4 linked regions of the Homo sapiens genome follow. The protein of the gene in region 1 purifies or fractionates together with the protein of each later gene. This does not show direct contact. Each region holds a gene or a part of one and is shown in the gene's direction. Other genes may lie near its edges.

Region 1 (3,589 bases):
CATCCTGGCCAACATGGCGAAACCCCATCTGTACTAAAAATACAAAAATTAGCTGGGCGTGGTGGTGGGCGCCTGTAGTCCCAGCTACTCAGGAGGCTGAGGTAGGAGAATTGCTTGAACCCAGGAGGCAGTGGTTGCAGTGAGCCGAGATTGCACCATTGCACTCCCGCCTGGGCGACAGAGCAAGACTCCGACTCAAAAAAAAAAAAAAAAGCAGCAGCAGCAGCCAGAGGCCACTCCAGCATCTCCCCTACCTGGCTTGGGTCAGGGAGAGGGCAGTGAGAAGTGAAAACTCCCAGCTACAGAAAAGGAAATATGTTGGGGGGAAGGGAGAAGGAAAGGTGTCTTCATCAATGCCGGGGCAGGGTAGATGGAGCCCTGGGCAGGGAGTTTGGACCAGGAAATCTCAATGAGGGAAATGTGCTGTCCTCACCTCTCCAAGAAGCGACTGGCCAAACAGAGTGACAGAGGGGATAAAGGTTATGCCTAGGGAGGCATGTGTCAGAGGCTATCATCCACTCTGTTGAACCCACAGTGACCAGCACCACCATCACACAAACATGCCTGCATGTGTGCACGCACGTGCAGTGTGCAAACCTGATGTCAGCCTCACTCCCTGGCTCTTCTGTCCACAAACGCTGTTTCTTTAAGTACCACTTTCAGTTCCTCCAAAGAATCTACTTAAACTCTTAAATTCCTGATCTCTATAGATTTTACTAAAGATTTCAAAGGAGATAAGATGAGAGGGTTACGTTGCACATTCTAAAGCAAACAAATTAAAATGTTTTGTTAGACATTTCCATATTTTTAAGGGCCTCCTTGGAGCTGCCAGGCTGGGAGTGAGGTTTCTCTCCCTTTCTAAACCCTGTGCCCATCTTGTCACCCTCCTGGAGCTGCCAGCAGACTTCAGATTCTTCTCCGATCTACAGAGCAGAAAAATTCAGCCAGCCCTTCCTTGTCTTCCTATCCACAGCTGCCTGCCCAGACTCATGAAACCTGACAAAATGCAAGGTCTTATCATTACCTGAACCTTGGACCTGTTCAAAAATACTAGTTCCTGAGAATAAATATCCCTGGTGTCTTCCTGCCCTTCCTGCACACCTCCAGTGGCTTATCAAAATATTTGTTTCATGCGCACACTGGGCTCTCATTTAAGAGGAATTTGGGAGAATGTTATTTTCTAATCTGCATTTCACACCAGGCTCCCCCTCCTTCCTGGGGTGCTAGTGTCAGCAGAACCTGATGGGGAAGTGAGGTCTGGGAGGCAGAGGAGGAAGGAATGAGGGGAAAGGGGAAGTTTGGGAGGAAGGCTTCTGAGAAGACTGGTGGGAGAGAAGGAGAGCCTGCAGACAGAGGCCTCCAGCTTGGTCTGTCTCCCCACCTCTACCAGCATCTGCTGAGCTATGAGCCAAACCAGGGATTTACAGGGTAGGGAGGGTGGGATAGGCAGCGGCATTAGATCGGAGGAATGAGATGGACAGACCTGGGCTGTGGGCTAGGAGGGCAGTCAGCTGGCCTAGGGTAGCCCGGGCTGGTGTCAGGGTAAGGAGAGGAAGGGAGGGATGAGGGCTGATTAATTTTTTTCACCCCACAGGAGGAAAAGCTTTCGGACTGCTGAAGGCCCAGCAGGAAGAGAGGCTGGATGAGATCAACAAGGTAGAAGGAAGAACTAAGGGGGCAGAGCCAGGGGGATGGGGCGTGGATGGGGAGGGCCTACCCTGGCTCTTATTTTCCCCTCCATAGCAATTCCTAGACGATCCCAAATATAGCAGTGATGAGGATCTGCCCTCCAAACTGGAAGGCTTCAAAGGTGAGGGGGAAACTGTAGGCGGTGGAGACAGGGCTGGGGGTAGGAGGGTTAGGATTTCCACAAGAACAAGGCAGGAACAGCAGAGATAAAAAGTTTACTTTTGTGGTAGCAAAAGGGGAACCTGCCTTTATTGCCCTCCTGCCACACTGCGGTCCCTTTCCCGGGCCTGCCTCTCTCAGCATCCCCTCTAGCTCCTTACACCCTAGCGGGGCCCCTCAACTCCCCAACCCCACTTCCTCTGCCTGCCCCTCCTCCTCCTTCCACGTTGTCTCCTCCACCTAGCAGTTGGTTGGCAACCCCTTCCTCAGTCCCCTGCTGAAAACCCTCCAGTCAGCGCTTATCCCTTCTGCTCTCTCCCCTCACCCAGAGAAATACATGGAGTTTGACCTTAATGGAAATGGCGATATTGGTGAGAAACGGGTGATTTGCGGGGGCAGGGTGGTGTGCAGGCCTAAGAAGACAGAGGTCTCTCCTACATGCTCCATTCCTCATGATTTGGGAGGGGGCCCACCTACCACAGTGGGAGGAAGGAGAATGGGGATGCGGAAGTGGGAGAGGAGAGAGAGGGTCTCCCCACCTTCTCCCCATCCCCATCCTCTGCCCCCAGATATCATGTCCCTGAAACGAATGCTGGAGAAACTTGGAGTCCCCAAGACTCACCTAGAGCTAAAGAAATTAATTGGAGAGGTGTCCAGTGGCTCCGGGGAGACGTTCAGCTACCCTGACTTTCTCAGGATGATGCTGGGCAAGAGATCTGCCATCCTAAAAATGTGAGTGTCAATTTCCAACCTCCCCTGTACTTACCTGTTTTCTCCTCCCCCATCCCTACCCTTGTCCACAGGCTCAACATTTCTACACGTTGCCCATCATCCCTTCTTCCATCCTTAGAGGGACCCTTCCAAGGTCCCGACCCCATCCCTATCCATAGTCCTGGTCCCCAGAAACTCCAACCCCTGCCCTTCCTCTTCCCCCTTCCACCCTCACATCCCCATCCCCTTCTAGCCTTTCCTAGCACCCTATGATTTATTCCCTTGAGAGGAGTGTTCCCTGATCCCTGTGCCTCTTCCCATCTCAACCAGGATCCTGATGTATGAGGAAAAAGCGAGAGAAAAGGAAAAGCCAACAGGCCCCCCAGCCAAGAAAGCTATCTCTGAGTTGCCCTGATTTGAAGGGAAAAGGGATGATGGGATTGAAGGGGCTTCTAATGACCCAGATATGGAAACAGAAGACAAAATTGTAAGCCAGAGTCAACAAATTAAATAAATTACCCCCTCCTCCAGATCAAGTCAGCTTAGTTTTTATTTGGGTGATTTTTTTCCTGGGTTTGGGAAGGAGAGACAGGTCTTGAGGGAAAGGTGGCAAGGATTTGGCCATATGAACAATCCATCAACAACGCTATAGTGTGTCCACTACAGCAGATGGTTTCACGCACCAAGGGGGATTCCAGCTGTGTAAGACAGCCTTAACCTCAAAGAATGCAGGCAGGTCAAAAACACATGTCCAAACAAGGTACTCAGGCCCATGACAGATTTCATGAAGAGCAAGGAATACCATGAACCAACATTCTCCACCACTATAAGCTTTGTCACTTTGACAAATCACTCAGCCTCTGTGAGGCTTTTTTCTAAAAATGGGGATAAAGTGACCTATGCTATTGTGCCTGACATATCATAAGCCCTCAATAATGTTTAAAACTTGAATGAGCCGGGGCCGATGGCTTATGCCTGTAATCCCAGCACTTTGGGAGGATGGGGTGGGCAGATCACCTGAGGTCAGGAG
Region 2 (3,500 bases), on another chromosome or scaffold:
CCCATCTCCAAAAAAAGTGCAAAAATTAGCCAGGTGTGGTGGTGCACGTCTGTTGTCCCAGCTGTTTGGAGGTTGAGGCAGGAGGATCACTTAAACACAAGGCTGCATTGAGCTATCATTGTGCCACTGCGCTCCAGCCTGGACAACAGAATGAGACCCTGTCTCAAAAAACCCCAGAAAAACAAAGGAAGCCCCACTTGCCACAGGAACTCCATGGGCAGAGTGATGCCCGAGGGTGGAGATTGGCTCAAGGAGAGTCCCTGTGTCAGGCACACCTGCAGGGGCGCTTCACTGACCATGAGCATTTTCATTACAAACGTGATTTTCCAAATACACTGCAAGCAGACGAGCCGTTTTACTCTAAATGACATGGTGCAAGTTCTAGTGTGTATGGAAATGTTCAGCCAGTGAAACGGCTTTGCGGTGCAGTGGAAAGATGAATTCCTTTTAGAAAACAGTATTAACAAAGAATAGAATGTAGGGAACAAAACAAAACTTGGAAGAAAATAGAGGTAAATTCTTAACCTCTGGGAAGGGAAGAAGACTTTGTATGCTTAAAGTTGAAGGATAAAATGTAGAAGAATTATGAATTGACTAAGATTTACATTTTTGTACATAATTTACTACAAACAAATGAAGCAATAAAACCTTGTAAAATATTGTCAACAAAAGGTTAACATTTGTAAACAAAAGATCTCATTCAAATGAAGATCACTTTAGTGCATGTGCAGAGAATATGAATGTTAAAGTGGTAATAGCCCAAACGAGTGTCAAATTAGCAAATGTTTTGAAAAATAGATGTGGCTGGAGTATAGTAAAAGCAGTTTGGCATTTTGCATCAGATTTCATGAAAATGAAATCTGTAATTTCATTTCCAGAAAATTAGCCTTGTAATTCCATTTCCAGAAAATTAGCATGGAGTACTAAGTACAGGAAAAGCTCAACAAATATTTTTTAAGCACCGACTCTATACCAGACCCTTGAGTTGCTGGTGAGGGCTGCAGTGGGAACGAGAGAGATAACGGGTACAGCCTCTTGGTCAAGCAGGGGAAGGCTGACATTCAGCATCTAAATACAGAATAATAAGTTATTTCTATGCAGTTGTAATAAGTGCTCTGAAGGGTAAAGGATACACACACATATACTGTACAGTATTTTTAATTTCAACAGTTGGAGACAATATAGCTTATATAAATTAACCATACAGTTAATGTGTATCAGTAGTACATAGTATATATAGTAAAATGTCAAAGACAGGCCGACAGGCAGGGTGCAGTTGCTCAGGCCTGTAATCCCAGCACTTTGAGAGGCCAGGGTGGGAGGATTGCTTGAGCTCAGGAATTCAAGGCTAGCCGGGGCAACATAGCAAGATCCCCATCTCTACAAAATAGTAATAATTATTCGGGTGTGGTGGTCTACTCCTATAGTCCTAGCCAGTTGGGCAGCTGAAGTGGGAGGATCTCTTGAGCCCAGAAGGTTGAGGCTGCAGTGAGTTATGATGACATCATCATGCCACTGCACTCCAGCCTGGGCAACAGAGCAAGGCTCTGTCTTAAAGATATTTATTGAGAGTTATCGCCCATAAAAATGCTTGAGATAATAGCTTTAAGATAAAACTGGGATGCAACTCTTCAGGCCAGAACCATTTGGAAGAAAAGATTGAAAAAAGAAAGCACTAGAATGTTAATGCATGGTTATGTTTAGGTGATGGAACTTTGCTAAATTTCTTCCTTTATACTTTTTTCTCTTCCCAAATCTTGATGAAAATGTACTGGTTTTATAGTAAAGGTGGCCATAAAGATATGTATTCAGGCCAGGTGCTATGGCTCACACCTGTAATCCCAACACTTCTGGAGGCTGAGGCAGGTGGACTGCTCGAGGCCAGAAGTTTGAGACCAGCCTGGCCAACATGGTGAAACCCCATCTCTGTCAAAAATACAGAAATTAGCCAGGTGTGGTGGTACACGGCTGTGGTCCCTGTTCTTGGGATGTCACAGAACACCAGAATTGTTCAGAGAAGCCACAGTGTCTTTACCAAGAGTCCAGATAAATAATTTATCTTGAGCATGCTAATCAGAGGCCATGCCTGCTACTAAGATTCACTGTGGCCTTAAGAAGATGTGGCCCAGCTGAGACTTCTCGCTTCCTCAGTTGTGTTTTCTGCTTTGGTCTCCTTAGCGACAAGACTCTGGGACGATGAAGAAGCCGCACACCACTGAAGAGATTGGTGTGCCCATATCCAGGAATGGCTCCACCCTGGGCCTGAAGTCCCAGAACGGCTGCATTCCTCCAAAGCTGCCCTCGGGGTCCCCTTCCCCCAAACTCTCCCAGACACCCACACACATGCCAACCATCCTAGACGACCCTGGAAAGAAGGTGAAGAAGCCAGCTCCTCCACAGCACTTTTCCCCCAGAACTGCTCAGGGGCTGCCTGGGACCAGCAACTCGAATAGCAGCAGATCTGGGAGCCAAAGGCAGGGCTCCTGGGACAGCAGGGATGTTGTCCTCTCTACCTCACCTAAGCTCCTGGCTACAGCCACTGCCAACGGGCATGGGCTGAAGGGGAACGACGAGAGCGCTGGCCTCGACAGGAGGGGCTCCAGCAGCTCCAGCCCAGAGCACTCGGCCAGCAGCGACTCCACCAAGGCCCCCCAGACCCCCAGGAGTGGAGCGGCCCATCTCTGCGATTCTCAGGAAACGAACTGTTCCACCGCTGGCCACTCCAAAACGCCGCCAAGTGGAGCAGATTCTAAGACGGTGAAGCTGAAGTCCCCTGTCCTGAGCAACACCACCACTGAGCCTGCAAGCACCATGTCTCCTCCACCAGCCAAAAAACTGGCCCTTTCTGCCAAGAAGGTGGGTGTGTGGGGGTCTCGCCGCTGCTGTGTATCAGGAGAGCTCCAAGAGTTGCTTGGTTGTGGTTTGAAGGGAGTGAGAACATTGTCCGGGGGCTTTGGCCTCCCTCATGTTAGAGGAACAAAGTGTCTTTTAGTCGTTCCCAGCCATTTGCAATTAAAGAACGGCTATCTTGGGGTGAAGGCAGTATGGGGTGTTGAGAGAGCCCTGATCTGGTGATGCTCATGTGACTCATGGAGGTTTGGGCAAGGTAGCAGTTCCCTGTTTTCACAGTAGGTGGAAGATCCTGACTGAACCCGAGGGAGGGTGGGCCCCACCAGCACGTGTCCCTAGCAGGGGTGGGGCGGGCAGGAAGCGCAGAGCCCCAGTGGGGTGCCCGGCACCTCTGCAGCAGGAAGCTTGGGCAGCCACGGCACGTGGATGTGATTGTTGTGCTGAGATTTTTGTTTAAATTTTCTTCCTTTTTTTTGTTTCTAACCAAAAATACTTTTCTGGTTCTTCTTCTACCATTCCCCTGCCCCTCACCTCCCCTTTTTGTCTTCTTCTGTCTCCTCATCTTTTTTTCTGGGCTCTTTTGTTTTTATTTTCATTTTTTGTTACTTTTGTTTTCCCTCTTCACTCACGGAAACCTTTTTTAGACCACC
Region 3 (2,739 bases), about 11 Mb from region 1:
AGCAGCAAGAAATGGCACAGCAGGAACGAAAGCAACAGCAGGAGCTGCACCTGGCCCTGAAGCAAGAACGTCGGGCTCAGGCCCAGCAGGGCCATCGGCCATACTTCCTGAAAAAATGTGAGTTGGGCACAACTGTTGCTAACAGGGACAGGGGTGCAGGGGCCATGGTGGTAGAGTCTTGTGTTGGGGTGTCCCTGATCCCCTTTAAGGAAGGCATGAAGGCTGGATCCCATGGTAACTTGGAGGAAAGTAGAAATAGTAGGGAGTTGTTTGTAACCAGTCTTGTATCCCTAATTAGATCATGGCAGGCATTGTCACCTTTATTTCTTGGTCTACACTCCCCACTTCCCAACCCCCCCCCCCCAACACACACACAGTGAGTTTTATCTCTTGGTCTACACTACACACACACACACACACACACACACACACACACACAAACACAGAGTCAGTTTTATCTCTTGGTCTACACACACACACACACACAATCAGTTTTATCTCTTGGTCTATACTACACACACACACAGAGTTTTATCTCTTGGTCTACACACACACACACACAATCAGTTTTGTTTCTTGGTCTACACTGCACACACACACATGCACACACGCTGGGCCAGGCACATAGGTGTTCATAGTTGGTTGAATTGAGTAGTACTGAGATCATATAAAAAGTCATCAGTTGGGCTGGGCACGGTGGCTCACGCCTATAATCCCAGCACTATGGGAGGCCAGTGTGGGGGGGTCACGAGGTCAGGAGTTCGAGACCAGCCTGGGGGCCAACATGGTGAAACCCTGTCTCTACTAAAGATATAAAAAAATTAGCCGGGCCTGGTGGCGTGCACCTGTAATCCAGCTACTCAGGAGGCTGAGGCAGGAGGATCACTTGAGCCCGGGAGGTGGAGGTTGCAGAAAGCCTAGATTGCACTGTTGTACTCCAGCCTGGGCAACAGCGTGAGACTCCATCTCACAGGAAAAACAAACAAACAAAAAAAAGTCACCAGTTGGGCCGGGCGCAGTGCCTCACACCTGTAATCCCAGCACTTTGGGAGGCCAAGGAGGGCAGATCACGAGGTCAGGAGTTCAAGACCAGCCTGGCAAACATGGTGAAACCCCGTCTCTACTAAAAATACAAAAATTAGCTGGGTGTGGTGCTGTGCATCTGTAATCCCAGCTACTCAGAAGGCTGAGGCAGGAGAATCGCTTGAATCTGGGAGGCGGAGGTTGCAGTGAGCTGAAATCGTGCCACAGCACTTCAGCCTGGGTGACAGAGTGAGACTCCATCTCAAAAAAAAAAAGTCACCCGTTGGCCAGGCGCAGTGGCTCACGCCTGTAATCCCAGCACTTTGGGAGGCTGAGGAGAGCGGATCACCTGAGGTCAGGAGTTCGAGACCAGCCTGGCCAACATGGCGTAACCCTGTTTCTACTAAAAATACAAAAAAATTAGCCATATGTGGTGGTGCGCGCCTGTAATCCCAGCTACTCCGGAGGCTGAGGCAGGAGAATCACTTGAATCTAGAAGACGGAGGTTGCAGTGAGCCGAGATCGCGTCACTGCACTCCAGCCTGGGTAACAGAGCAGGACTCCGTCTCAGAAAAAAGATAGAGGGGCACCAGTGAGCTTTAAAGAACTCATGTATCCAGCATAATGGCTTGGAGTTACTGACCTGGTTTGGGAAAGAATAGGGGCTTCCTTCTTTGTTCACCAACTTTCATTCTCCCTGTCATTTAGCTGAGCAGCGCCAGTTGGCACTAGCTGAGAAGTTCAAGGAGCTGAAACGCAGCAAGAAATTGGAGAACTTCTTGAGTCGAAAGAGGCGACGAAATGCAGGCAAGGACAGGAGACATCTCCCTTTGAGCAAAGAGTAATAAGGAACTATCCTCTGCTCTGCCACTGCCCCAGGGAGACATGGATCTGTGAGGACAGATTTGGCCACGGCTGGTTTCCGTTCAAGGGCAAGGATCACAGCTGCCCTTGAATCTCATTGCCTCAGAGAAGACTAGAGGGCTCTTGGACTATCCCTAGGGCTACACAAGAATAGTTCAGCCTTCTGCCATGCCACACAGCCTCAGCTTGAATCTGGTTCATTGCGTCCTCGTGTTCTTCTCTCATCCTTGCCTTAAACCAGGGATTCTGATACCGAAGAAGAGGGGCCAATGAAAACCATGGAGTCTGTTCGTGACTCCCAGGGCTGGGACATTATGTAGGAGCCACTTCATAAACATTCTCTTTACTCATCTTTTTATTCTGTTTTTTGTGGCCTTCTTTTTGTGTTTCCCCCCCGAAACAGAGTCTCGCTCTGTCACCCAGGCTAGAGTACAGTGGTGCAATCTCGCCTCACTGCAACCTCCACCTCCCAGGTTCAAGTGATTCTTGTGCCTCAGCCTCCCGAGTAGCTGACATCCGCCACCAAGCCCAGCTAATTTCTTTCGTATTTTTAGTAGAGATAGAGTTTTGCCATGTTGGCTAGTTTGATCTTAAACTCTTGGCCTCAAGTGATCTGCCTGCCTCAGACTCCCAAAGTGCTGGGATTACAGGCGTTGAGCCACCGTTCCGGCCTTAAGGCCTCTGCTTTTATGTGGGATTTGTGGGTAGCCTAGAACTACTTTTTAGTGGGCCACATATTGGGATAGGCAATAAAGCCTAAGGCATCTACAACTGGGAAGTCAGATCAGAAACCCCTCCCACTTAAATCTGGGCCCCTCAAGGATGACAAGATCATTTAGTGGGTGAACCAAT
Region 4 (3,500 bases), on another chromosome or scaffold:
GATCACTTGAGCCCAGGAGGGTGAGGCTGTAGTGAACCACGATCGTACCACTGCATTCCAGCTTGGGGGACAGAAAAAAAAAATAAGGAAAAAAAAATCCTTACTACTGTGTCCCAGGACTTAAAAAGAATGAGAAAGAACCTAAAACTCCTTACAGTGCTTGAGTGTTGCATGGACTCTAATTACCACTGGAGCGTGAAGAGTTTGAGCAGTTTTTATGTTTGAGAGTCCCCTAACAGAATACATGATAGCAATATTGTCATCTTCAAGGGCTCTGGCCTGTTTATTCAACATGCTTTTTTCTTTCTTTCTTTCCAGCAACTTAAAATTGAAAGACTTGCACAGAAACAAGTTGAGCAAATTCAGCCTCCTCCCTCATCTGGCACCCCTCTCCTCGGACCCCAGCCTTTTCCAGGACAAGGTCCAATGTCTCAGATTCCTCAAGGTTTTCAACAGCCCCATCCATCTCAGCAGATGCCAATGAACATGGCTCAAATGGGGCCTCCAGGTCCACAGGGACAGTTTAGGCCTCCTGGACCCCAGGGACAAATGGGACCACAAGGTCCTCCACTGCATCAGGGAGGTGGGGGGCCACAAGGATTCATGGGACCACAGGGGCCCCAGGGCCCGCCCCAGGGGTTGCCACGGCCTCAGGACATGCATGGGCCCCAAGGAATGCAGAGGCATCCTGGACCTCATGGCCCTTTGGGACCTCAAGGGCCACCTGGACCACAAGGTAGTTCTGGTCCTCAAGGTCATATGGGTCCTCAGGGTCCACCTGGCCCACAGGGTCACATAGGCCCCCAAGGCCCGCCTGGCCCTCAGGGTCACTTGGGCCCACAGGGGCCTCCGGGTACTCAAGGTATGCAGGGACCACCTGGTCCCAGAGGAATGCAAGGGCCTCCTCATCCTCATGGGATCCAAGGCGGACCAGGGTCTCAAGGGATCCAAGGTCCTGTGTCTCAGGGACCTCTGATGGGATTGAATCCAAGAGGAATGCAGGGGCCTCCAGGCCCCCGGGAGAACCAGGGTCCTGCTCCCCAAGGGATGATTATGGGCCACCCGCCTCAAGAGATGAGAGGACCTCACCCTCCAGGTGGACTACTGGGACACGGCCCTCAGGAAATGAGAGGTCCTCAGGAGATCCGAGGCATGCAGGGGCCTCCACCCCAAGGATCAATGCTGGGACCTCCCCAGGAATTGCGAGGGCCTCCAGGCTCACAAAGTCAGCAGGGGCCGCCCCAGGGCTCTTTAGGACCTCCACCCCAGGGTGGCATGCAAGGACCCCCCGGACCTCAGGGACAGCAGAACCCAGCAAGAGGGCCACATCCATCTCAAGGGCCAATACCATTCCAGCAACAGAAAACGCCTCTGCTAGGTGATGGGCCCCGGGCCCCCTTCAACCAGGTATTATTCATTTCCAACTCACGGGCACATTGGGAAAATACACTCTGCACAGAAGTAATACTGCTGAGTATTGTGGAAAATGGTCACAGCTGGATATAAATACTTATCAAGTAGTGACAGTAGCTTAAGATACTAGCATCCTGGCTGAAGAATGAAATCATAAGAATGATGAGTTAGGTTATACTCCCATTAAGTACATCTCAGTATTCATTTTTACTTCTCACCATTTTTCTTTTTTTGGTAATAGAGTTTCTTCAGAAAAGGTCAACTCTCATTTGAGTACAGCTGATAATTGTCCCAGGGCTCCAGGAGAGCTGTGGCCCTGAGGAGGAAGCATGTTTTACATGGTGGTCGGCTCTGAGGCTGTCATGCCTCCTTTCTGGGCCCTTTACATTGCAGCCTGGTGTTCCATGGGCCTGCCAGCCACAGAATCACTTCCTGTCTGCCAACTCTACTTTTAAAAGATAGGATGGGATATTTAACTCATGAGTATACTATAGACTCTGTACCTCACTCTGTTTATTACAGTGAATAGAAATAAAGAGACTGTTATTCCAGAATTGAGCATTCTGGAAATGGTGACCCTTTGGATGAAACTCTGCTCAAGTTGTTTTCAGCTCACATATAAAAGTATTTGCAGGGGGGAGCATTTCTGTAGAAATTCTCCTTCTTTGAGGATTCTGTTTTTGTTAGCCAATTTTTATTGCTCATGCGCTGAGCTCGTGCTTGAGAGATGGTGTGAGGAAAGTTCAGGTTGCTTGGGGGAGTGAATTACGAAAAGAATTGCATGAGCATAAATAGATGTAATACTGCTCAGCTATGTGCATTTTATGCTTTTCTCAAGTTCTTAGTCTGGAGGCATTATTTGGGTATGAATAACTGAGTTTTGTCCCTGAAAACTCACTTTTGGTCCAGTGTGGACCAAAAGTGAGCGAGTCAGCTAATGTTGACTCCCTGAGACACTTGGAGAAAGGGGATGCTACAGATGTAGAAAGCACAGTCTGTTTTGGTTTTTCAAATACCACCACGAATCCCTAATGTAAAGATGACCATTGGGTTTCCTGAACTCAACTACTAAGCTAAAACAAATAAATTATCTACTATTCTAAAGTAGGTCTTCCAGAACCTAAAAGTGTCGTAGTCATGGAGAATCTGATGATGTCTGAGTTATTTCCAGATTTTTATTCAGCACTTCTCAGAAGTTAGGATGAATTAAGTATAGGATTGCCATTCTAAATTGCCCTAAAACTTGAAGTATTATATATTTTATTAATTTACTGCTCAGTTGTATGTGTGTATAATATTATTTATTGTAAGTTATTTTCCTAACTTTCTGGTAGTAAATTAACAGTTTTCATTTTGGAGGATTAAAAAAATAATGGACTTTAGCTACTGTGTTATAACTGAAATATTTATAAACATGTCAGAGTCACAAGGACATGCCTGAGTTTCTGGGATAATTCAATGAGATTTTTTATTGTACCATGTAGTAAAAGATTTTATACATGGGAAGCATGATTCTGAAATTTTAATTGACCTATAGAAATACTGGTAGAATGAGTCTGAAGATCTGATACTTTGTAGGGCATTTCAGATCTCAGAAGTTGCCTGATGAAAATCTGTGCTCTTATTTCTCATATGCTGAAATCTAAGTTGCTTCACTTTAACCAGACCAGTTACTTAAACCAGTTGTTTTAATTGGTTTAATTTAGTGCTGCTGTGTTAGAATTTCTGACTTTCCATTGATGTTCTTTTTTGGCATTACGAGTAAAGATCTAATTTTACATAAAAGTTGTCAACAGGTTTAAAATACAGGTGCTTTAAAAAAATTATTATAGTAAAAGAAGTATCTCCTTTCTCCTGATTTAAGGACAATGTTACTGTAATCTTACTAGGTAAATATTTACTGGGTATTTTTATCTTGTCATGTTATAATGCAATCACTATTTATGTAGCTCAAGCCTGTGATTTCATACCCTTACTTTAAAAACATATTTTCAGGAAGGACAGAGCACAGGCCCCCCACCCCTGATACCAGGCCTAGGGCAGCAGGGAGCACAAGGTCGCATTCCCCCTCTGAACCCCGGACAAGG

What was found. The genes of interacting proteins can lie anywhere in the genome.
Region 2: the proteins of AIF1 (region 1) and USP36 purify together in Homo sapiens (affinity purification with mass spectrometry; one large-scale study listed by BioGRID and IntAct). This does not show direct contact.
Region 3: the proteins of AIF1 (region 1) and RRP36 purify together in Homo sapiens (affinity purification with mass spectrometry; one large-scale study listed by BioGRID and IntAct). This does not show direct contact.
Region 4: the proteins of AIF1 (region 1) and WDR33 purify together in Homo sapiens (affinity purification with mass spectrometry; one large-scale study listed by BioGRID and IntAct). This does not show direct contact.

The regions. Positions count from the first base shown.
Region 1 is NC_000006.12:31,613,927-31,617,515, forward strand, and holds AIF1 (allograft inflammatory factor 1), read left to right. Parts: upstream 1-1,307; 5' UTR 1,308-1,403; coding exon 1,404-1,428; intron 1,429-1,594; coding exon 1,595-1,656; intron 1,657-1,743; coding exon 1,744-1,810; intron 1,811-2,064; exon of another isoform or gene 2,065-2,177; coding exon 2,178-2,219; coding exon of another isoform or gene 2,220-2,417; coding exon 2,418-2,580; coding exon of another isoform or gene 2,581-2,584; intron 2,585-2,889; coding exon 2,890-2,974; 3' UTR 2,975-3,089; downstream 3,090-3,589. UniProt on the Homo sapiens protein: Actin-binding protein that enhances membrane ruffling and RAC activation. Enhances the actin-bundling activity of LCP1. Binds calcium. Plays a role in RAC signaling and in phagocytosis. May play a role in macrophage activation and function.
Region 2 is NC_000017.11:78,806,315-78,809,814, reverse strand, and holds part of USP36 (ubiquitin carboxyl-terminal hydrolase 36), read left to right. Parts: intron 1-2,178; coding exon 2,179-2,856; intron 2,857-3,494; coding exon of another isoform or gene 3,495-3,500. UniProt on the Homo sapiens protein: Deubiquitinase essential for the regulation of nucleolar structure and function. Required for cell and organism viability.
Region 3 is NC_000006.12:43,027,361-43,030,099, forward strand, and holds the end of RRP36 (ribosomal RNA processing protein 36 homolog), read left to right. Parts: coding exon 1-117; intron 118-1,731; coding exon 1,732-1,868; 3' UTR 1,869-2,239; downstream 2,240-2,739. UniProt on the Homo sapiens protein: Involved in the early processing steps of the pre-rRNA in the maturation pathway leading to the 18S rRNA.
Region 4 is NC_000002.12:127,717,172-127,720,671, reverse strand, and holds part of WDR33 (pre-mRNA 3' end processing protein WDR33), read left to right. Parts: intron 1-318; coding exon 319-1,407; intron 1,408-3,408; coding exon 3,409-3,500. UniProt on the Homo sapiens protein: Essential for both cleavage and polyadenylation of pre-mRNA 3' ends.